5 linked regions of the Homo sapiens genome follow. The protein of the gene in region 1 interacts with the protein of each later gene in a pairwise test. Each region holds a gene or a part of one and is shown on either strand. Other genes may lie near its edges. The genes, in order: FLNB, ATF7IP, ITGB3, MYBPC2 and DSCAM.

The links.
Region 2: the proteins of FLNB (region 1) and ATF7IP interact in a two-hybrid assay, tested with the Homo sapiens proteins (one large-scale study listed by IntAct).
Region 3: the proteins of FLNB (region 1) and ITGB3 interact in a two-hybrid assay, tested with the Homo sapiens proteins (one study listed by BioGRID).
Region 4: the proteins of FLNB (region 1) and MYBPC2 interact in a two-hybrid assay, tested with the Homo sapiens proteins (one large-scale study listed by BioGRID and IntAct).
Region 5: the proteins of FLNB (region 1) and DSCAM interact in a two-hybrid assay, tested with the Homo sapiens proteins (one large-scale study listed by BioGRID and IntAct).

Annotation. Positions count from the first base shown.
Region 1 is NC_000003.12:58,165,038-58,169,328, reverse strand, and holds part of FLNB (filamin-B), read right to left. Parts: exon of another isoform or gene 3,214-4,291; intron 890-3,213; coding exon 671-889; intron 1-670. UniProt on the Homo sapiens protein: Connects cell membrane constituents to the actin cytoskeleton. May promote orthogonal branching of actin filaments and links actin filaments to membrane glycoproteins. Anchors various transmembrane proteins to the actin cytoskeleton.
Region 2 is NC_000012.12:14,424,083-14,428,373, reverse strand, and holds part of ATF7IP (activating transcription factor 7-interacting protein 1), read right to left. Parts: coding exon 2,901-4,291; intron 1-2,900. UniProt on the Homo sapiens protein: Recruiter that couples transcriptional factors to general transcription apparatus and thereby modulates transcription regulation and chromatin formation. Can both act as an activator or a repressor depending on the context.
Region 3 is NC_000017.11:47,277,616-47,281,906, forward strand, and holds part of ITGB3 (integrin beta-3 precursor), read left to right. Parts: intron 1-1,909; exon of another isoform or gene 1,910-2,241; intron 2,242-2,353; exon of another isoform or gene 2,354-2,647; intron 2,648-4,291. UniProt on the Homo sapiens protein: Integrin alpha-V/beta-3 (ITGAV:ITGB3) is a receptor for cytotactin, fibronectin, laminin, matrix metalloproteinase-2, osteopontin, osteomodulin, prothrombin, thrombospondin, vitronectin and von Willebrand factor.
Region 4 is NC_000019.10:50,463,425-50,467,145, forward strand, and holds the end of MYBPC2 (myosin-binding protein C, fast-type), read left to right. Parts: intron 1-921; coding exon 922-1,108; intron 1,109-2,770; coding exon 2,771-2,781; 3' UTR 2,782-2,897; downstream 2,898-3,721. UniProt on the Homo sapiens protein: Thick filament-associated protein located in the crossbridge region of vertebrate striated muscle a bands. In vitro it binds MHC, F-actin and native thin filaments, and modifies the activity of actin-activated myosin ATPase.
Region 5 is NC_000021.9:40,336,415-40,340,705, reverse strand, and holds part of DSCAM (cell adhesion molecule DSCAM isoform CHD2-42 precursor), read left to right. Parts: intron 1-1,290; coding exon 1,291-1,587; intron 1,588-2,329; coding exon 2,330-2,605; intron 2,606-4,291. UniProt on the Homo sapiens protein: Cell adhesion molecule that plays a role in neuronal self-avoidance. Promotes repulsion between specific neuronal processes of either the same cell or the same subtype of cells.

The sequences.
Region 1 (4,291 bases):
CACCCCCTACCCACCAAAGATGTGCCTGTGGAATTCACATCTTTCTATTGACATAAAATAGTCTATGTATAAGCAGTGTAAAAGTTTGGGATGACATATAATGAAATATCAAAAAATGATTCTGTGGATGAGAAAGGATGATTTTTCTATCTGAATTTTCTAATTTTCCTGCGATGAACCTACATTCTTTATGTAACAGTGAATCATGACGTGTGGAAGGGATTTACTACAGTGTTTATGGTGGTTACCTTGGGTGGTGGCTGTGAAGTGGTTTTCATAGTTTGGTATTTTTTCCAGTGTTTTGGAGGAGACACATTTTTATAAGTATAGGAAAACTTTTTGATTATTTTTCAAGTGAAAATTAGAAATCAGGGGATTTTTCAGACCCTGATCTAAACAAATACGTAAGATTTCAATATGTATTCTTTCCTGTTAGAGATAGAAAACCACCTAACATCCTAACATGCTTTCTCAACTTCTGCACGGCTCCACTCTGTGGACTTTTGTAAGTTTCAAACACTGCCCTCTGACATCTCATACTATTTACTGACATTCAAAGTTCAAAGTAGCTTTAACACATCTAAAACCATCCATAGTTTCCACTATGATTGATCTGACACAACCAGCTCCCCAGGAAGGGAGAGTAACTCCGAAGGTGGTTGTTCGTTACCTGTCACCTTGGCCTTGAAGGGACTGCCCACGATGTGGTTGGGCCCACCGTATTTGACGCTGATCAGGTAGTTACCAGGAGCCATGGGGGTGTACATGACTTTGTACCCTTCAGGTGTTTCCTGGCAATCCATTTTAACCTTGGATGGGCCTTCGATGGTGACGGATAATGTCCCTGGACCTGCTCGGGTGGTGTTAATAAAGAATTCCGACTGGATACCTGGGAGAAAGGAATAGAAAATGCTGTGTTGATGACTTGGAGGGCTTTCCTGGGAGCACTGAGGCCGTGGTGAGGGACACACATAGATCCCCTTACAGAGGGCTCACCCTGGTGGCATGGGAACCCACTGGCACTAGCTCTGAACTTCTGGCAGAGAGAACCTCAGGCCCTGCGGGGTGGGGGCTCCCTTTTCTAGGCCAAGGCAGGAGGAGCATGGCTGACATTTCGCCCACAAGCACCAACAGCCTGGACACCCTGTTCTCTCCTCTGGGCATGAGCCATTGTGGCTGAGGGCAAGAAGCCTGAGTCACACTGTGAGCCTGAAGTGCTGCTTCAGCCACCAGAGTCCAGCTCTCCCTCCAGGGGTGTGGGGGAGGCGTGGGCCCCTCTGACTGTCCTTTCTTCTCCGGGTAGACTTGGAGAAGCCAGGGAGGCCAAGCATCTCCTCCCTTCCTCCTCAGCCCTCACCCCAGGCACTGTGCTGCAGACCGGGTGCAGCCACTGTGACCTGCCAGCCCACCCACTTTGCCGTGAATTCCAGCAACAAGCACAGGAACAGAACAGCAGCTCCCGCTGACGGGGCATGCGTACCCCACTCCGGCTCCAGGTCCTGTGCACAGCACCATTTACGCATGTGGTATGGAATCCTTTCCGTGATTCCTGCTTCACAAATGACTCTGCGGCTCAGGGAGGGGGCCAGTCACGCTACACAACCAGAAAGTGGTAGAGCCGGGTTTGAACCATGTCTGCATGGCTCTGGTGCCAGGCTCATCTCTTGACCCCTGGATGGGCAGTGGAGCTGCCTCAGATCCCCTAACTGCAGCCCTGAGACAACTTAGCTGGCCCAGGGAGAGCCTCCTTCAGTCATCAGGTCTGGCGCATGCCTGCTACAGTGCCCTCTATGGGGCATGCCTGGCATAGCATCCCCATGCAGGGCTATGCTTCTGCCAGAGCCCTAGACACTGCCCCAGCTGGGAAATATTTTGGTTTAATTATAGCTCCTAGTCCAGAGAAAGAATTATTGTTCTGGATATCAATAAAAACAAAAGAGCTGCTATCGTGCAACTCTCAAACACAACCCAGCTGTTCCTGGAAGCTCTTGAGGCTCCTGCCCCAAGGTCCACCCCCAACACTATCTCAACCTCATCATGGTATCTAATCTGTGCAGCCAAGAAGCCCCTCAAGCAGCAGCTCTGAGGCCTGGGGCTACGTAGGGAAGAAGCGGGAGGTGAGCAACAAGGAGACAGTGTGTCCATCCAGGAAGCAGCTGTAAGGTGATGATAAGGAAAGATATTTTATTGATTGATTGATTGAGATAGAGTCTCGCTCTGTTGCCCAGGCTGGAGTGCAGTACCATGATCTTGGCTTATTGCAACCTCCGCCTCCCAGGTTCAAGCGATTCTCCTGCTTCAGCTTCCTGATTAGCTGGGATTACAGGCACTCGCCACCATGCCCAGCTAATTTTTGTATTTCTTTAGTAGAGATGGGGTCTCACCATGTTGGCCAGGCTGGTCTTGAGCTCCTGACCTCAAGTGATCTGCCCACCTTGGTCTCCCAAAGTGCTAGGATTACAGGCATGAGCCAACGCACCCGGCCTTATTACTAATATTTTTTTTTTTAGATAAAGTCTTCCTCTGTTGCCCAGGCTGGAGTACGGTGGCATGATCACAGCTCACCACAGCGTCAATCTTCCAGGCTCAAGCCATCCTCCTGCCTCAGCCTCCAAAGTAGCTGGGACTTCAGGCATGCACCACCACGCCTGGCTAATTTTTAAATTTTTTTGTAGAGATGGGGTTTTGCTGTGTTGCCTGGGCTGGTCTCAAACTCCTAGGCTCAAGTGATCCTCCCACCTCCACCTCCCAAAGTGCTGGGATTACAGGTGTGAGCCACTGTGCCAGGCCAAAAAGATATTTTTAAAGTGAAGTTGAAATGATGTGGCTGCAGGGGAAAGTTCCACCATTTTTTAACAAGCTGTTTCATTCCTAAGTTCGTCTTTAAAAATTTTTTTTTTTGGTAGAGATGGAGTTTTACTATGTCACCCAGGCTGGTCTCAAACTCTTGGCCTCAAACAATCTTTCTGCCTTGGCCTTCCAAAGTGCTTTGATTACAGGCATGAGCCACCGCACCCATTTGGCCCTAATGCAATATTTTGACCAACCAAAAATCAGTTCATCTTGACTGTGAGGGCCCAAAAGGGCAGGGAAGACGAGGTGGGAAAAGAGAAAGCAGGGGTTATGGGACAAGAGCTACTACTTGGCTGTTACCTCCTCTACAGCTCCAAACAAGCCTATTAGGTGGGTCCTGTTATTAATCCTGTTTTACAGGAAAGGAAGCAGAGGCACAGTGAAGTCAGATAATTCATCTGGAGTCACACAGCTGGGGACCAGCAGAACTGGGATTTAAACATAAAGTCTGTCCAACTTGGAGCTAAAGCACTTACCTGAGAGAAGATGGAAGGAAAAAAATCCACAAGCAGAAGTCTCTCACCACTGCCTCTAGCTATAACCTGTATCTGACACCACAAAACATCTCTGGGCGTGGCGGTCTTCCCCCACCCCCTCAAATATGTCCAGCTCAGTTCCTGTGAGTTTAATGCATGTTAAACGCAGCACTGCTTGTTCTTCAAGGCAGTTAAGGAAGGAGGCCCTTCTGGTATACCCCGAGCACACTGGGGTTCCTGGACCATTTCATTAGGAAAATTGCTCAGCGGCTCCAAAGAATCTGGAGCTCCCTGGTCTATCTCCCAGCCTCTCAAGCCGCCTCCAGCAGGGTCCCGCCCCAAATTCTCCACATTCCCCTACTCCAAAATCTACAGAATGGACCATTTAAAGCTTGAGCCAAGAGATACAGCAAACTCACCCATTAAAAACAGAGGGAGGTTTGCTTTGTTCAGAAGGTCAGGATACTGGGCGCTCTGGCGGCCAAGCACAGATACCTTTTCATTCCATGCACACTGCAGCTGTGTAATCTCAGAATGGATATTTAGGGAAAGGCTTGGGAGCAGGAGGGCTGGAAAAACAAGGCGCCTTCCCTGTGACAAGAGCAATATTTACACAGGGTTTGAAGCAGGCGGTTCTGTACCTCTCCCCTCCTGGCTAGGAGCTTCCCTGCAAGAGCAACTCCTTCTCTCAGCAGCGTCCAGCACTTGCAGAGCACAGCCTGAAACCCAAGCTCCCAAAAAGGTGTGCGAACAGCCAAAAGGAAATGGGAGAGGGCCCAGGCACAGCGGCATGAGCCAGCAGGAGGGTGAGATGCTTCCTGGCCAGTGTGGGAGACCCCAGCAGCTGCTGTGAGGCCTGGCCTGAAGCCTGCCACGCGCTCCAAGTGCCGAGAGGACCCCACCTGGGCCCTCAAAGGTGAGTACCTTGTCAGGGCCCAAGTGCCAGCACTGCTGCCTGGAAA
Region 2 (4,291 bases), on another chromosome or scaffold:
TCACTAAATTTACCCTGCTAATAGCATACCATCAGATTAAAGGCAAGTAACCAAAAATATTCCCAACTTTGAATTTTCAAAGTATGCAACATGGATGGCTTAATATTCATCTCTCAGCACTTAACTGCCTTGTGTGGGATGCCCTCCAATATCAAGATTCTGACATAAAGGTACTCATTAAATCATAAGCTGCAATTTGCTTTTTTAACTTTCTTATACAGACTTTTTTTTTTTAAAGGACTTATAAGGCTTTTTTATGGACTTGGCCTAGTGCCACACTCTGTATAGACACTTATAGGAAATGGATGAAATTCATTCTCAACACTGTCACCTATTACCTTTCCAAAATGTAAATTTCATTCTCCTCTCTGCTTGAAGTTCTTTATTGGCATTCCAGCGCCATCATAAAGCTTTAGCATTATAACCAAGGTCCTCCATGATATGCTTCTCTTACATTATTGATTATTCATTCACTTTACAAATATTTACTGGGCACTTACTGTGTGCCAGGCACCGTTTTGGCCTGATGATGGTGACTCGCAGCAGGAGTAATAACAGTTGTGAATTGGACTCTAGATCTATTATGATAGTAGTACCAACAGAATTTCCTGATGGACTAATTATGGGGTGTGAAAGAAAAAATAAAAATGGTTCCAAAGTTTCTGGCCTCAGCAAGTAGGATGGAGCTGCCATTAAAAGGAATTAGACTTGGCCAGACGCGGTGGCTCACGCTTGTAATCCCAGCACTTTGGGAGGCTGAGGCAGGAGGATCACGAGGTCAGGAGTTTGAGACCAGCCTGACCAACATGATGAAACCCCGACTCTACTAAAAATACAAAAATTAGCCAGGCGTGGTGTCGCGCACCTATAATCCCAGCTACGCAGGAGGCGGAGTGGGGAGGAGAATCACTTGAACCCGGGAGGCGGAGGTTGCAGTGAGCCAAGATCGTGCCACTGCACTCCAGCCGGGGCAACAGAGCGAGACTCCATCTCGGAAAAAAAAAAAAAGAATTAGACTCATTAAAACCCTATGTTACAGCAGAGCCAATATAGCAAGACCCTGTCTCTACAAAAAAATTAAAATTTTGCCAAGTGTGGTGGCACATGTCTGTATTCCCAGGTACTCTGGGGGCTTAGGTGGGAGGATCACCTAAGCCAGTAAAGTGGAAGCTGCAGTGAGCTATGATTGTGCCACTGTACTCCAGCCTGGGCAACAGAGCAAGACTCTGTCTCACAAAACAAAAACAAGCAAACAAAAAAAACCTCTGTTATACAGATATTAAAAGGGGCAAGACATCCCTAATACATCTGGTGCTCTAATAAAGTTACCTTAATCTGCACTCCCAGAATGCCAATTTAACATTATCACTGTACTCACAGTCTTGTATTTAATGGCCTATGATTTAATTCTTGTGTGTATCCTGAGGGCAAATACTATCTTCAAATCTCTAGAACCAAGAAGGGCCTGGCCTGTCTCTTTATATAGGTTTAGTTGAATGCTCTTTGAAAATAAAAAGCCATCCTTTTTTTTTTTTTTTTTTTTTTTTTTTGAGGCAGGGTCTTACTTTGTCACCCAGGCTGGAGTAGTGGCGCGATCTCGGCTCACTGCAGCCTCGACCACCCAGGTTCAAGTGATCCCCCTACCTCAGGCCCTCAAGTACCCTGGACTACAGACAAGTGCCACCACGCCTGGCTAATTTTTGTACTTTTGTAGAGACGGGGTCTCACCATGTTGCCCAGGCTGGTCTCGAACTCCTGAGCTCAAGCAATCTGCCTGCCTCAGCCTCCCAAAGTCCTAGGATTATAGGTGTGAGCCACCTTACCTGGCCAAAAAAAAAAAAAAAGCCATTTTTTAATAAGAAAAAAATCTCTACCTCCAAAAGCTGGTATGATATATTGGGGAAAAAAGTTGTCTCTGTCTCTTAGACCTGCCTCCATTTTTTTTTCTTTGAAGAAATTAGATGGTGTTTTATGCTAGCAAGGTCACTTCTCTCAGAGATGTCTAAATCTAAAAGAATGTGATATAATGGGAAAAGAAAGGTATTCATGCTTTTCTCAGTCTTCCACAGGCTTAGAAAGTTTCATAGAGGAATAATGTTTTTCAGTTTGACCATAAAAGAAGGTAGAATTTTTCTCATTCTTTTTCTCTAGGAATAATAAATAAAATAAAAGAGATGGGAGAGATAGGTACTGAACAAATCATAAAGTTAATGTACCTTTTACATAAGGAGTTTGAAATCAACCTAAAAGTAACAGAGATCTAAGACATAGACGGACAATATCAAATAAGAGAATTGGGTTACAGGGAGCTCATTCAGAAAATGAGGAAGAGAATAGGTTGGGTAGAATCAAAAGGGCTGAGGGAGCAAATGGGTAAAGTCTTTATCAAATGGATAATCAAGCTTTAAGGTTTCTGGCTTACAACAATGGTGCTGTCATTCCTGGACAAAGAATATTAAAGAACAGGATTTCATTGGGAATATTAATTGAAAATATAATTTGTTACACTTGAAGCAAATAGATTAAACTATTAGGCTTTTAGTTCTAAGTTATTTGTTCGCTAAGTGATAGCAAGAAAGAACTGCTACAACTCTAGTCAATTATGTACTAACTTAAACTGTTATCTCAGTGTTATGGTGCTCTACTTCATCTCTATTTCCAGACTATAAGGGCATATTTTCTACTTATTTTATCTCCCTTCTTAGTATTTAGTACAATGCTACTCACAGAGTACACACACTAATTCTGAATTCTATGAAGTTAAGACATCTTTCTATAGAGTCATCACCATTCTCAACTTTCTCTGCAGCTAAAATAAATTTAAAACATTATGATAATGTTTTATTAAACAGTTCATCAAAGTCAATAAAAAATCTTTAACATTTAAGTTATATGCTAACCTGGAGAGCACGTTTCATTTTGCGATATAACTTCAGACTCATCTTTTTCACCCGAAATATCCTCTTCATCAGAGAGGACCAGAAAGGCTTCTTTTGGCAAACTCTCACTACTTTCTTGTTTAGATGGTGAACCAAAAGAACTTTCCATTTTCTCTTCCAAATCTGGATTTGTCTCATCGATTGGAAGGAGAGATGTTTTAGAAAAGCAAGTAAGTTCATCCTCAGAAGGTGCAAGCTTTTCCAAAATAGGAATGATTTCATCTGTCTCCATAGAGTCTGTATTTTCTAAGATATTCTCACTTTTGTTATCTTCAATAACATTTTCATTAATCGTTTCTACAAGATCTGCAGAAGTTTCATCTTCATTCTTTTCACCTTGGTCAATTTCCATACTGCTAGATATAGCATCTTCTCCAAGAGCAAGCTCTGTGATAATATCTTCCTCTACCTTCTTTTCATTTTCAGGAGGTCGATCTGAACAAATAGTTGTATCATCTGTTTCTAGAGTTTCTTCATTAGCATCAATATTATTATCAGCTTTATTTTTCTCATCCAATGAGTCTTTACTCTGAATTTGCTCTAATTTTTCATCAGCTCCATTTTTTTCAAGAAAATCATCATCTTTATTGCTACTTGGTTCTATATTGTCAATTTCAGGAACTGGTTCACAAACTGGTACAGACTTTGGTTCAAAGGTACGATCAAAGGTTGATTCAGAAGTCAGCTCATCAGAGGCCAGTTCACCAGTGGCCAGATCATCAGAGGCCAGTTCACTAGAGGATAGATCACCAGAGGCCAGATCATCAGAGGCTGGATCAGTGGAAGCTGGTGCTCCAGAAGCCAGATCAACAGAAGTTATTTCACTAGAGGCTATATCATCAGCGGCACAATCACCAGAAATGGGTTCAACAGGGACCGGTTCACCTGGGATGGGATCACTAGAGGTGGGATCACCAGAGGAGAGATCATCAGCAGTGGCATCACCAGAGGTGGCATCACCAGGGGACACATCACCAGAAGGGGCATCACCAGAGGTTGCATCACCAGAGGCAGCATCACTAGAGGAGGGCTCGCTAGAGGTGGGATCACCAGAGGTGGAATCACCAGAGGCCAGTACTCCGGAGGCTGGATCTCCGGCATCCAGATCACCAGGGGCTGGATCACCAGAAACTGGTTCAGCAGGCAGTTTAGAGACTGGTTCTGGAGTTATATTATGGGGAGACAAAGGTTCACAATTTAAATCATCATCCTGCTTGTTTTTTACATTAACACTTAGGATACAGGGTGTTTCCTTCCATTCTGCTTTACTTCCTTCAGGATCAAAACAAATCTCTTCAATGCCATTCACCTCTTCCTTGTCTTTAATGTAATCCATGTTTTCCAAAGGTGAG
Region 3 (4,291 bases), on another chromosome or scaffold:
CCACTTAAATTTGAATTAAAAAATAATTTTTAGTATAAGTTTGTCCCAAATATTTGCTAAATTTGGCAACCCTACAGTGGAGGGAAATACTAGGAATTCTTATATAAGCCTGAGTACACCCTGGAAGGTGGGCCAGCTTCCCACTTAGCCTGACAACCAAGGGTGACAGAGGAAGAAGGAGTTTGAGTCTAGCAAAGTAGAGGAAGACTCTAATAGGATTTCCTTCTCATTTTCTTCTCTGCAACTGCAGGAGCAAGATATAGGCCATGATTTACATTTCTTTATAATCACAAACATAATTTTATTCTGACTTGTCTTCTTTCTATTTATTTTTAATCTGGAGGACAAATGTTCATCTTGAGAGTTTTGCTCCAATTTATTATTGTAAAAGGAAGTATAATATTAAGAGTGCTCCTCTTCTTGTAAACAATGAAATGTGAATACCAACAACTATAAACAAAAATGCTTCATGTTCCTCCCCTCCTCCTTTCTGCCCTCTTCATTCTTTTCTCTTTGCATGTTCAAGTGATTTCTTGTCCTCACCAGATGAGTTAATCAAGACAGCAATGGATGGGAGATGTTTTGGTGGTGCTCTGGGGTAAAAAAAGTACTGGGGCATATTGACTCTCGCTCTCCAAGAAGAGTATGAAATAATAGTAGTTATTGTGGTAACTGTAAAAAAGAGTCACCTGCCAGGTGTGGTGGCTCACTCCTGTAATCCCAGCAGGGCCAAAGTGGGCAGATCACTTGAGGTCAGGAGTTTGAAACCAGCCTGACCAACATGGCAAAACCCCGTCTCTACTAAAAATACAAAATTAGCTGGGCGTGGTGGCGCAGGCCTGTAACCCCAGCTACTAGGGAGGCTGAGGCAGGAGAATTGCTTGAATCCGGGAGGTGGAGGTTGCAGTGAGCCAAGATCGTGCCATTGCACTACTCTAGCCTGGGCAACAAGAGCGAAACTCCATCTAAAAAAAAAAAAAGAGTCACTTATATTTGCATTTATTTGCTTATACTGTGTCCTAAAGCAGGGGCTCCAATTCCTAGTCCATGGCCTGTTAGGAACTGGGCCGCACAGCAGGAGGTCAGCAGCAGGTGAGTGAGCATTACCGCCTGAGCTCCACCTTCTGTCAGATCCGTGGTGGCATTAGATTCTCACAGGAGCTCAAACCCTACTGTGAACTGGGCATGGGAGGGATCCAGGTTGTTCACTCCTTATGAGGATCAAACTAATGCCTGATGATCTGGGGTGGAACAGTTTCATTCTGAAACCATCCCCACCTCCCTGTCCATGGAAAAATTGTCTTCCCTGAAACCAGTCCCTGGTGCCTAAAAGGTTGGGAACCTCTGTCCTAATGGATTTCAGTATAGTTAACTTATGTTGAGATTTTTATATTTTGAAAGCATTTCACATTCACAGTCTTCTTTTACTTCCTGACCAACCCTGTGAAATAGGCAGGATAATGACAACTATTCATGTTGTACTTTCCCAATTTCCAAAATGGGATTAATGGAGAATGGTACCAAGAGCGTGTGTCACCCTCCCAGGAGAGGGAGGTAATTCAGCCAGCTCGCAGGGCGCTGGCTGGAACCTCCCACCTCTGTGCTCAGGCCCTTCCCCTGGGTCTTGGCTATTTTTGCCCTTTTTGTGTAACATCCGGTTTCCCTGGGAACTGAAACTTTAATATCCACCCCTCCCCCTTCTAGCTTTCTTCCTGCATAACCTGGAGACATTCTTTCTACCTTCTCAGCCTGGGTTACCAAGAAAGGGAATGTTGCCCAAGTATGTTGAGGTCACTGCCTTGGTGCTCTTCTGGAACAGAGGGCTCTCGTGGAGAGCTTGGCTGACGAGCAGGCCTGTTATATTCCTGACCTCTGATGTCAGCAACCACAAAGGGAGGGAGGGAGGCAGTTTTGTTTTTCAGTGTTTAATTTTTCTAAGGAAACTCATAACAAACCATTAGGACTGTCAGCACATCTTAGCGCTTCAAACCCTCTTCTCATTAGGACTGCCACATTAGAAAATAGGAGTCAGGAAACTCCCGTCTAATGCATTCTCTCCCTCTGCTGATGGAGCCTGAAGATGCATGAAGGCCTTGCTGCTCTCATCCAGTTTGCTGGGCTCCGGTCCCTGCTGTCTTCTTCAGCATCTGTCTTGGTCCTGGAAAGGATCCGCTCCTCACTGCATTCTGATTTATCCACTGCCTTTTTGGGAAGGTTTTCTCCCTGGGGCTTTGTGGGCAGCTAGAATCAGAGATAGGATTGGGGCTTTTTTGAGCAAGAGAAAGACTGCTTCCAGAGGAGGAAGGGGTAGGAGAGGTGGGCAGGGACAACAGGAGGAGTCTGGGCACAAAACCTGAAGTGCCCAAGTTCTCCCCAGGTCATTCCGTCCTCAGCCAGAGCTGGGTGCACGGGAGACTTTCATCTTCCTCAGAGTTGTGGAAGGTCTGTGATGTCCCTGTTGGAGTATTTGCCACCAGGAAGGTTAAGTCTTATTCATTGATTTCCATCGCCGAGGCTGGTTCCCTGCCTGCATACCTGTGAAGATGAGAGAGAAAGAGAGAAGCTGCTGGCTTCCAGAAACTCTACTTACTTCTTGCCTGGGCCAGGGTAGTCCTCATGCTGTTGATGTTGCTCGTGTCCCCATCCACGTGGGGAAGGCTTCAGCCCATGAAAGGGGGATCGGACTGGAGAGGGAGAGAGACTTTAAGCATTGGGAAGGGTTTTGGGTTACAGGGTTTTTTTGTTTTTGTTTTTGTTTTGAGGTGGGGTCTCACTCTGTCACCCAGACTGGGGTGCAGTGGTGTGATCTTGGCTCACTGCAACCTCCGCCTCCCTGGCTCAAGTGATCCTCCCACTTCAGCCTCCTGAGTAGCTGAGATTCCAGGTGTGCACTACCATGCCCAGATAATTTTTGTATTTTTAGTGGAGACGGGGTTTTGCCCTGTGGCCCAGGGTGGTCCGGAACTCCTGAGCTCAAGTTATCCACCCGTGTCGGCCTCCCACAGTGCTGGGATTACAGGCATGAGTCATCGCACCCGGCCGGTTACAGGGCTTTTGAGTATGAATGGCTCCTTGTGGCCCAGTCCCTCTTCTGGCATTATGGCTGCCAGGTTGCTTGAGGGGGCTGAGGAGGCAGATGTCATCCATCCTTCTCCATCCCTCGCACATGCCCACCTTGCATCCTGTTCCCTACCTGGGGCATTCTCTGTTGTGGCTCCTCCCTAGGACCATTCCTTCCACACTTTTCCTTTTCCGTGCCTTGACTCTCACTCTATACGGAATGTAGTAAAGCTTATTTTATGATGATAATTACAGTCAGACAATCTAGCTGGCCTCTCAGTTCTGCCACTTCCTAGCTCTGCAACTTTGAGCAAATTCCTTAATTTATCCAAGCCTCAGATTCCTTACCTGTAAGATTGGGTTCCTTATTTGTGAAGCCTCCAAACCTTAGGTTTCTCCCTTGTAAAATTATAATAGTTCCAGCATTATGGAACTGTCAGGCATATTGCAATAATCCATGTAAAGTGCTCACCACAGTGCCTGACATACAGTAAGTGTTCAATAAATGTCAACACTAGTTGTTCTGGGATATTGGTGTGGGTTATCCAGCAGACATTTGGAAGTGCTGGTTGGGGATGTGGGTAGGGGTGGGGTTGAGGAGAGCCCGAAGGCCTAGACATTGTGAAATAGGTCCCGGGAGGGGTTTTCCAGCTTCCTGGCTGGTCCCCTCAACTTGGTAAGGAGCCCTCATAGACATGCACCCACACAGTGTTGGCTAAATTGGCTGAATGTCAGAGCCGGAAGGGACTGAAAACACTGTGTCATCTAAAGGCCTTGTTGAACAGGTGAGGACACAAAATGACGTATCTGAGGTCACATGACTAGTCAGTGGCAGGCCTAGGATTGATCTTCTTTCCTGATTTTCAGTGTTCTTTCCAGGGTGGCGTGGTCCCCTTCAATACTCAGGTTTAAGCACCCAGAGCCCCAGGGGGCCGTGGGTTTTTGGAAGGGTACTCAATTTGTTCTTTGTTCAGGGTGAAGGAGGACACTGAAGTGATAGGATGGGCTCTGGTTAGGTGCCTGGCCCATGTTCCCAAGTTTGTGGAGTTTATTCATAATTAGCTTATCCAGGAAGTACTTGTCAAGCATCTCATAGTAATAGCTTACATTTGCTGAGGACTTCCTCTGTGCCAGGTGCTGTCCAATGCATTTTATGTGGATTGTCTTATTTAGCCTGTGTGACATCCCTGTGAGGGAGGTACCATAATTACTATTATTTTAAGTAACTTTT
Region 4 (3,721 bases), on another chromosome or scaffold:
ATTTATCCACCTACCAATCCATCCATTTACTCAGTTCATTCCTTCACTCCATTTGCTTATTTACAGCACTGTTTCGTGCTCTCATTCATTTATTCACTCCATTTATTCTTACAACAAACATTTTCAGAGGCTTTCAATGACCTGGGTGATTCGAACAAGAAATTTCCTGTATGTTGGGGGAGACTGACATTTGCCCAGAGTCACATAAATAATATAAAATTATGAAGGGCTGGGCCAGACACGGTGGCTCACACCTGTAATCCCAGCACTTTGGGAGGCCGAGGCGGGCAGATCACCTGAGGTCAGGAGTTTGAGACCAGCCTGGCCAACATGGTGAAACCCCATCTCTACTAAAAATACAAAAACTAGCCAGGCATGGTGGCAGGCGCCTCTAATCCCAACCACTTGGGAAGCTGAGGCAGGATAATTGCTTAAACCCGGGAGGTGGAGGTTACAGTGAGCCAAGATCACGCCACTGCACTCCAGCCTGGGAGACAAAGCGAGATTCTGTCTCAAAAAAAAAAAAAAAAGGGAAGGGCACTATGGAAGAGGGAACAGCCAGTGCCAGCGTCCTGAGGTGGGTGCCTGTCTGGTCTGTTTGAAGGACAGTGAGGTAGCCTGTTTGGCTGGAGCAGAGAAGTAATGGGGGTCAAAGAGTGTGGGACCCTGTGGGCCACTACAAACAGTGAGCTCTTTGTCCTGAGAGCAATGGGAAGACCCCACCGTTACCCTGTGAAGTGGGATTATCAACCTGCTTTTACATAAGAGGAGACTGAGGGTCAGGGAGAAGTGACTCGTCCAAGAACATCTGGCAAGAGGGTGGCAGAGCCTAGAACCCAGATCGGCTTCCTGAGCCCCATTTTGTCATCATTGCCCAGGGTCTCTCTCTAAGTTGGCCTCCTCTCCCTTGACTCTCAACAGCCGAAGGTGGTCTGGATGAAGAACAAGATGGAAATCCGTGAAGATCCCAAGTTCCTGATAACCAATTACCAAGGAGTCCTGACGCTGAACATCCGTCGCCCCTCGCCCTTCGACGCTGGGACTTACACCTGCCGGGCCGTCAACGAGCTGGGCGAGGCGCTGGCTGAGTGCAAGCTGGAGGTCCGAGGTGAGGGCGTGGCCATCCCCAACACTGGCTGACCCTTGCTCGGGCCCTGTGCCAGCCTGGCCGGTGGCCCCGGGCTGAGCACCGCTGAGATCTGGAGACGAGTGAGACCAGCCCTCTGGGAGGAGGACTGGGAAGCTGCTGTCCTGAAGGCAGCACAGGGCATCCTAGGAGTTGGGGTTGGGGAGCCCCTGACCCAGCTTGGGAAGGAGTCAGATTTTTCCAAAGGAGTTGAAGGACAAGGAAGAGGAAGGCTGAGTGAGAAGGGCTTAGGAAACGTCCCCAAGGCCTCCAGTGTACCTGGGCCCCCGTAGGCAGATGGGTTGACAGAGTGAGAGCAAATATGGATAACACGGATGACCAGGGGTGGCGGGAGCTCCCAAGAGTGCCTCCCTCCATAGCCTGTCCCCATGCTCCCACCCACCTGCCCCTGCCTCTCCCTGCCCCGTCCCTCATCTCGGTCCCACAGCTCCAGCCCCAGCGAAAGCTACATCCTCTTCCTCCCATATTCCATTTCCAGCCGCCTCCGTCTCCAGTCTCTCCCTCCTGCCAGCCACTTTCACCCTTGGACTCTGGCCCCAGAGAGCTCTCTCTATCCAGAGCTGCTCTGCCCCAGCCCTGATCCCAGCCCGCTGGGGACTCCCCACCGCCCCAGCGCCCCTCCGCCTGGTGTTCACGGTGGTGTGTCCACCCCGGTTCTTCCCACATGATGTCCCAGCCACACCGGGCTGTTGGCAGTTACACTGGCCAGGCTTTCCTGCCACAGGGACTTGGCACATGCTCTTCCCTCTTCCTGGAACACAATTCCCCCGCTCCTTTACCCTGGGCTCCGGCCCATCAGATGTCTGCCAGTCAAGGCTCAGCGAGGAGGCCACTAACCGTGTCCCTCAGAGCAGGATGACATCAATGTGGACTTCCAGAGTCCCTCCCGGATGGTGACTTCTGACCTCTGACTTCCCTGGCTCTGAGGACAGCCCAGCAGACAGGGTGGCTGGGGACCCTTAACAAAGGCTCAGAGAGGACACTTTCTAGCCAAGCACGGTGGCTCTCGCCTGTAATCCCAGCACATTGGGAGGCCAAGGCAGGCGAGTTGCTTGAGCCCAGGAGTTCAAGACCAGCCTGGGCAACATGGCGAAACCCTGTCTCTACTAAAAATACAAAAAAATTTAGCCGGGCCTGGTGGCACATGCCTGTTGTCCCAGCTACCTGGGGGGCTGGGGCAGGAGGATCACTTGAACCAGGGAGGCCGAGGCTGCAGTGAGCTGAGATGGCACCACTGCACTCCAGCCTGGTGCAACAGAGTGAGACTCTGTCTCAAAAACCAAACAAAAACACCCCAGATCACTGCCCTTCCAAGCCCACCCAATTTCTGATACTCTGCTGTCTCCCTGATTAACTATTAAATCAGCTCAGAAAAATCCCAGCCTCAGGATTCCAGTGACCGCGTACAGCCAGCAGCTCAGAATGTCCCCATCTGGGATCCAAAATACCAGTAATCAGGAGCACTGTGACTCTGGGTTGTCCAGCCACAGTGGCCTAGGATGGGGCGGGATGGTGACCGTCATCCTGTCCCCCTGCTGGTCATGTGGATGCAGCTCCTCCTCCTGGGGCTTCAGGAGGAGGCGTGCCCGGGCCTGGCTCACCCGCTTTCTCGTTTTCCTGCAGTGCCGCAGTGAGACCTGTCCCCTACCTGCCAAGACAATTGGTGGTGGAGTCCTGACCCCAATCCCCAACCTCCCAGGACTGTGTTCTTTCTGGAGTTTTCGCTGAGAACAAAACAGTGTTGTCTGGACCCTGGAGTGTCTGTCCTTCTTGACTCCGTAGCTCCGTCTTCCTCCTGCAGGGGATTGGTCACCCCGGGGTTGGCGACGGGAGCAGCTGCGTCGACACAGGCCGCGGTGAGGTGGCCTCTTGGAATAGCTACTTTAGCGAGGCAGCCACGTTGTCACAGCAACCACAGAGCATCAGAGGTGAACCCAAGCCCACGGGGAGGCCGGCCCCAGAGAAGCTGCTGGGAGGGAGGGAGGGTGCAGGCTAGGGGCAACGACAGTGGCAGCGAGTCAAAGACACACCCAGGCCACACCCAGAAGGCCACTCTACCGAAGCAGCTGTGTCGCTGTGGCCGCCTCTAGGCCTTGGCAGCGGCCCCAAGAGCTAGACGTGGTGAACCGAAGAGGGAGGCAGCCGTACTGGACAAACTCCTGCCAGGCAGCTGCGCGGACTTGGTGACGAAGGCGAAACCGCTCGTGGCCTGCTTGTTGGTTCTTAATGGACTGACCTTTATTAACTTTAATATCTCATCTGCCCGGCCCTGAGGCAAGGTACTTTGATCTCTGGTCATTCGGTGACCTTGAAGGATGCTGGAAGACTCAGAGTCCCCAGAGTTCAGAGGTCTTGGGGTCAAGTCTGGCTTCCACGCCTTGGGGCTGGGGAGAGAGAGTTTGTTTCAGAGGCCTTGGCCTGCAGTTAGGGAGTGAGGGGGCGGGGAGGGACTTTGCACTTACTGGAATGGCAGGGGAAGCCAGGTGTCCTAAGAGGGGGCACAGATTCCAGTGCCCCCAGCTTCTAAAACTGGCATCATCCCCTGCTCCACCTTGACCCCCAAGGCCCTACAGA
Region 5 (4,291 bases), on another chromosome or scaffold:
AAAACTAAAAAAAATCTACTCATTCTTATCTTTCATTATGGGACAACCCTTTAATTGAACACAAAAATTCTTTTAAAAAACAAAAGATGTCCCCTCCAGCAAGGTCTCTTACCAGACTCAGAAATCCTGTGGCATGTGATTGCAATTATGTCAAAATGACCCACTTATGCCTAGAAAAAATGTGTCACAGTGTTGATTTGTATGCCTGAGGCTGGCTGACCTATTGGTAACTTTTCTTCTGATTTTCATACATTTCCTTTAATATGCATGTATTTCTTTTTATAAATGGAAAAACATATATAAAAGAAACATGCATTTGTAACTATTACTATATAAGAGAAAAAACCATATGGATGATAGAAAAATAATGGAATATGAAAATTTGATCTATGTAAACATACTGAAAATTTCTATGGAGACTTCTCTAAGATTAAGATCCTAGTTTGCCTGCGATAGTTCTGGGTCATGCCTGTTCTCTTGGCATAATTATTAGTCCTTTCTGTTTCAGCCTCAAAAGTGTCCCAGGTTGGATGTTAAATTATATGGCCAGCCTACTTAAGATACTTTTAGAGAGATTTAAAACATGCTTAAGTACCCTACTTAAGATATCTTTAGAGGTTTTTAATACACGGCATTTAATACAAACTTTATTTAGCTTCTACCCATTCTCAGAGACTTCATGGAAGTTTGCATGCAATTACTATTTGTAATTAAAGTTATTAAAAGAGGATTTCTTATGAGAAAATGATGAAGATGAGGTCATCAATCTCTCAGTAGTTTCCTTTATTCCTGTAAAGAATTCCCTAGTGAGAAAACCCCAAATAACTTGAGGAAGTATTAGGTTGGTGCAAAAGTAATTGCTGTTTTTGCCATTACTTTTTGCAATCACTTTTGCACCAACCTAACAGATAAAGTGACTGTTTGTGGGAGTGAGCGGGTGTGGATTTTCCGTCTGTTTATAACTTTGTGTGAGGAAACACCAGTTTTAAATTAAGGACTTCTTAGGAGCTGTCATTGTTTAACCTGAACATCTGAGTTGTATTACCATTCCTCTTAAGTCAATCAGGAAATATAGAAACAGTTGATGAAAGCTTGCTAACACTGTGCTTACCTGTTTTGAAAACAGTGAACTCTTGTTCTGATTAACGTTTTGCTTTATCAGGAAAACCAGACCTTTTTGGTAATGTTTAACAACTACGACATTTACCCCCTAGACATGAAAGACATATACTTGGAAGTTGTTTAATTATTTGTATGTGCCACTTTCTTCCATAATTTGTTTTCCTGCAGATGGAACTCCCAAAATTATTTCTGCCTTTAGTGAAAAGGTGGTGAGTCCAGCAGAGCCGGTTTCCCTTATGTGCAACGTGAAGGGAACACCTTTGCCCACGATCACGTGGACCCTGGACGATGACCCGATTCTCAAGGGTGGCAGTCACCGCATCAGCCAGATGATCACGTCGGAGGGGAACGTGGTCAGCTACCTGAACATCTCCAGCTCCCAGGTCCGGGACGGGGGAGTCTACCGCTGCACTGCCAACAACTCGGCGGGAGTCGTCCTGTACCAGGCTCGAATAAACGTAAGAGGTGCTTGTCAAATCAGCTCCTCAAAAAAACACACATAACTCATTATAGTGGAGAAGAAGATTTCTGCATGCACCGAGCTGGGTCTTGGAATGCCAGAGCGGATTAACTGTTGCTTCCCATTTCCTACCCTCTCCTTCCTACTCAGGAATGGCACTGACTGGGTTAATGTTGGAAATGGCATTTTGGTTTCTGTAGTCAGCTTGTTCTTTTTTACTCTAGATCTGTTCACCTGATGTTTCCTTTCCTGGTTTATGCTCTGCATGCCCTTTCCCTTCTCCTTCTCTTCGGTTCTTCCACATTCATGGTAAACCTTCATGTACATGGTATTAAACTTACATTCATGCTGCAACGTGATGTAACCTCCATTGTCGTCCTAGATTTTACAGAGAGAGTTAAACAATTGATCAATTGCTGCCAGTGTGTTCACCAAAAGTGCGTGATTGTCCAGTATAGACTAGTTACTTTCTATTAATTAAATTGCCTTTTATCTTGTAATTTTTAATTCAAAACATTTTCATAGAAGTAGCAGATAAAGTGTTTCACAGTTATACATTTGAATTTAAGAAAAGGAAAGAAAAACCTTTGTTGTAGAAAATGCCACATGCAAAAATATTTGTTTAACTGAAAAAGATGTGCTTACATGAATATAATCTACATTTTTAACTCAAGGAAAAGTGTACCCATTTCCCTACATGAGATGTACCCTTAAATTATTTTCAAGAGTTTCTTTGTGTCTCTCCAGGGCCTGCAAGCATTCGACCAATGAAAAACATCACAGCAATAGCAGGACGGGACACATACATTCACTGTCGTGTGATTGGCTATCCGTATTACTCCATTAAATGGTACAAGAACTCTAACCTGCTTCCTTTCAACCACCGCCAAGTGGCATTTGAGAACAATGGAACTCTTAAACTTTCAGATGTGCAAAAGGAAGTGGACGAGGGGGAGTACACGTGCAACGTGTTGGTTCAACCACAACTCTCCACCAGCCAGAGCGTCCACGTGACCGTGAAAGGTAAGCCCTGTTCTCCTGGTTCCCACACAACTCATTCCATAGCCCGACTACTTCCCAGACCAATGATTTGAAGTCGGGTAATCCAAGATCTGCTTATTTAGAGCAGGATAATTGTACAGGCTGAAGAATGACAGGGAACATGAGATGTCCTCTTTACTACTGACTGAATCTTCACAGGAACTTTAGTTGATCTGATTTTCTCTCCAGGTGGAATTTTGGCTTGGTTTTCCAGAGGGCATGTGTTGTTAACAATACAACAGAAAAAAAAGGAGCACATCATTAGCTTCATTATCTAGTCATCTCTCAGATAATTTTTAAATAAATAACCTTCTTTTCCTAAAACCTCCTAAAAGCAAGGTCTCTTAGAACTTCACTGGAAGGGATTTTCTGTATTGGATGAGGATTTCAAACAAACGTCTTATCTTCTGTAGATGAGCAGGTCAAAGCAACAACATAGAAATTATATGTTTAAAGGATGCCACAGAACGTTTTCCTCATTAAATTATTCTTTGCATCATGACATGGACTGTCATGGAATCTACCTGTCAGGATGATCTTTAGAGATCCTGCAATTTGAATTGACTACAATCTCCTTACCAGAAAAAAACAATAAGGTGATCAGACTCATCCAAGGATACGCAGACTTTTAGTGGCAGAGCCTCAGAAAGACTCATTTCTTCTATTCTACAAGTCAGTTTCCTGAGCTGAATATGAAATAAAATTGTTTTAATTATGTAAGGAATCTACCTGAGGTGGGTCCTAGGAATAGAACTAATATGTTATAAAACTATTTCCGAAACCTGTGGGTGTTGCTTCTAGCCACATTGAGCTGCCTGTCTGAGGTGTCCAAGTTCTCTCTCCAGGAACCAATAAGTGGCTTTTAGTTGCCCTTGTTACAAAGTTGCATAGGTTTCCTGTGGTCTTCCCCAAGCTTCTTTTCCCACCAACCCTGTGAGTTTTACTTTTGTGAGAACGCATACAGACACACACACATGGAAATAATAATATGTGTATACTATTATTACGGGGCATATATATTGCATTACATTATATATTATAGAATATGTATTGTGCATTGTATATTAGATATGCCTGCACATAATTATAAATCGGTTTTTAATAACCATATGTCTTGAGAATTTCCTCAAATCACTAGATATTCTTGGTAAACCAGGCTGCATAAAGGTTCATTTGGTGGTTGTGTTTATTTATTTAATCCTCATTTACAGAACATCTGCTTCATGCCAGGCACTACTCTAGACACTGAGGAATACAACAATGAAAAAGGTCTGCAAGGTCCTTTCCTTCATTGACTCTCTTCTCAGTCAGGAGAGACAAACAATAAACAAATAAAACAAGTGAATAAACCAGAAAACACCTAATGGTACTCCATACTATGCAGAGAATTAAAACATGGCAGTATCTTAATGGTTCATTGCAATAGTCAGATGCCATATCAACACATTTTCTGTACTCTGTCATCTTAAAATTCATTGGTCTATCATACCCTTGGAAGGAATGTTTTACCCACACATGATTTTGTAACATAAAAAGTTGATCATTTGGAAATGATTGGTTCACTGTGTTACACAGATCTTCCAAATGTTGATACAATTTGTTATACAATATCAAAATATCACAACTACTAACATTACCATGATCTCATCAGAAAGTCTTCAAGTAAAC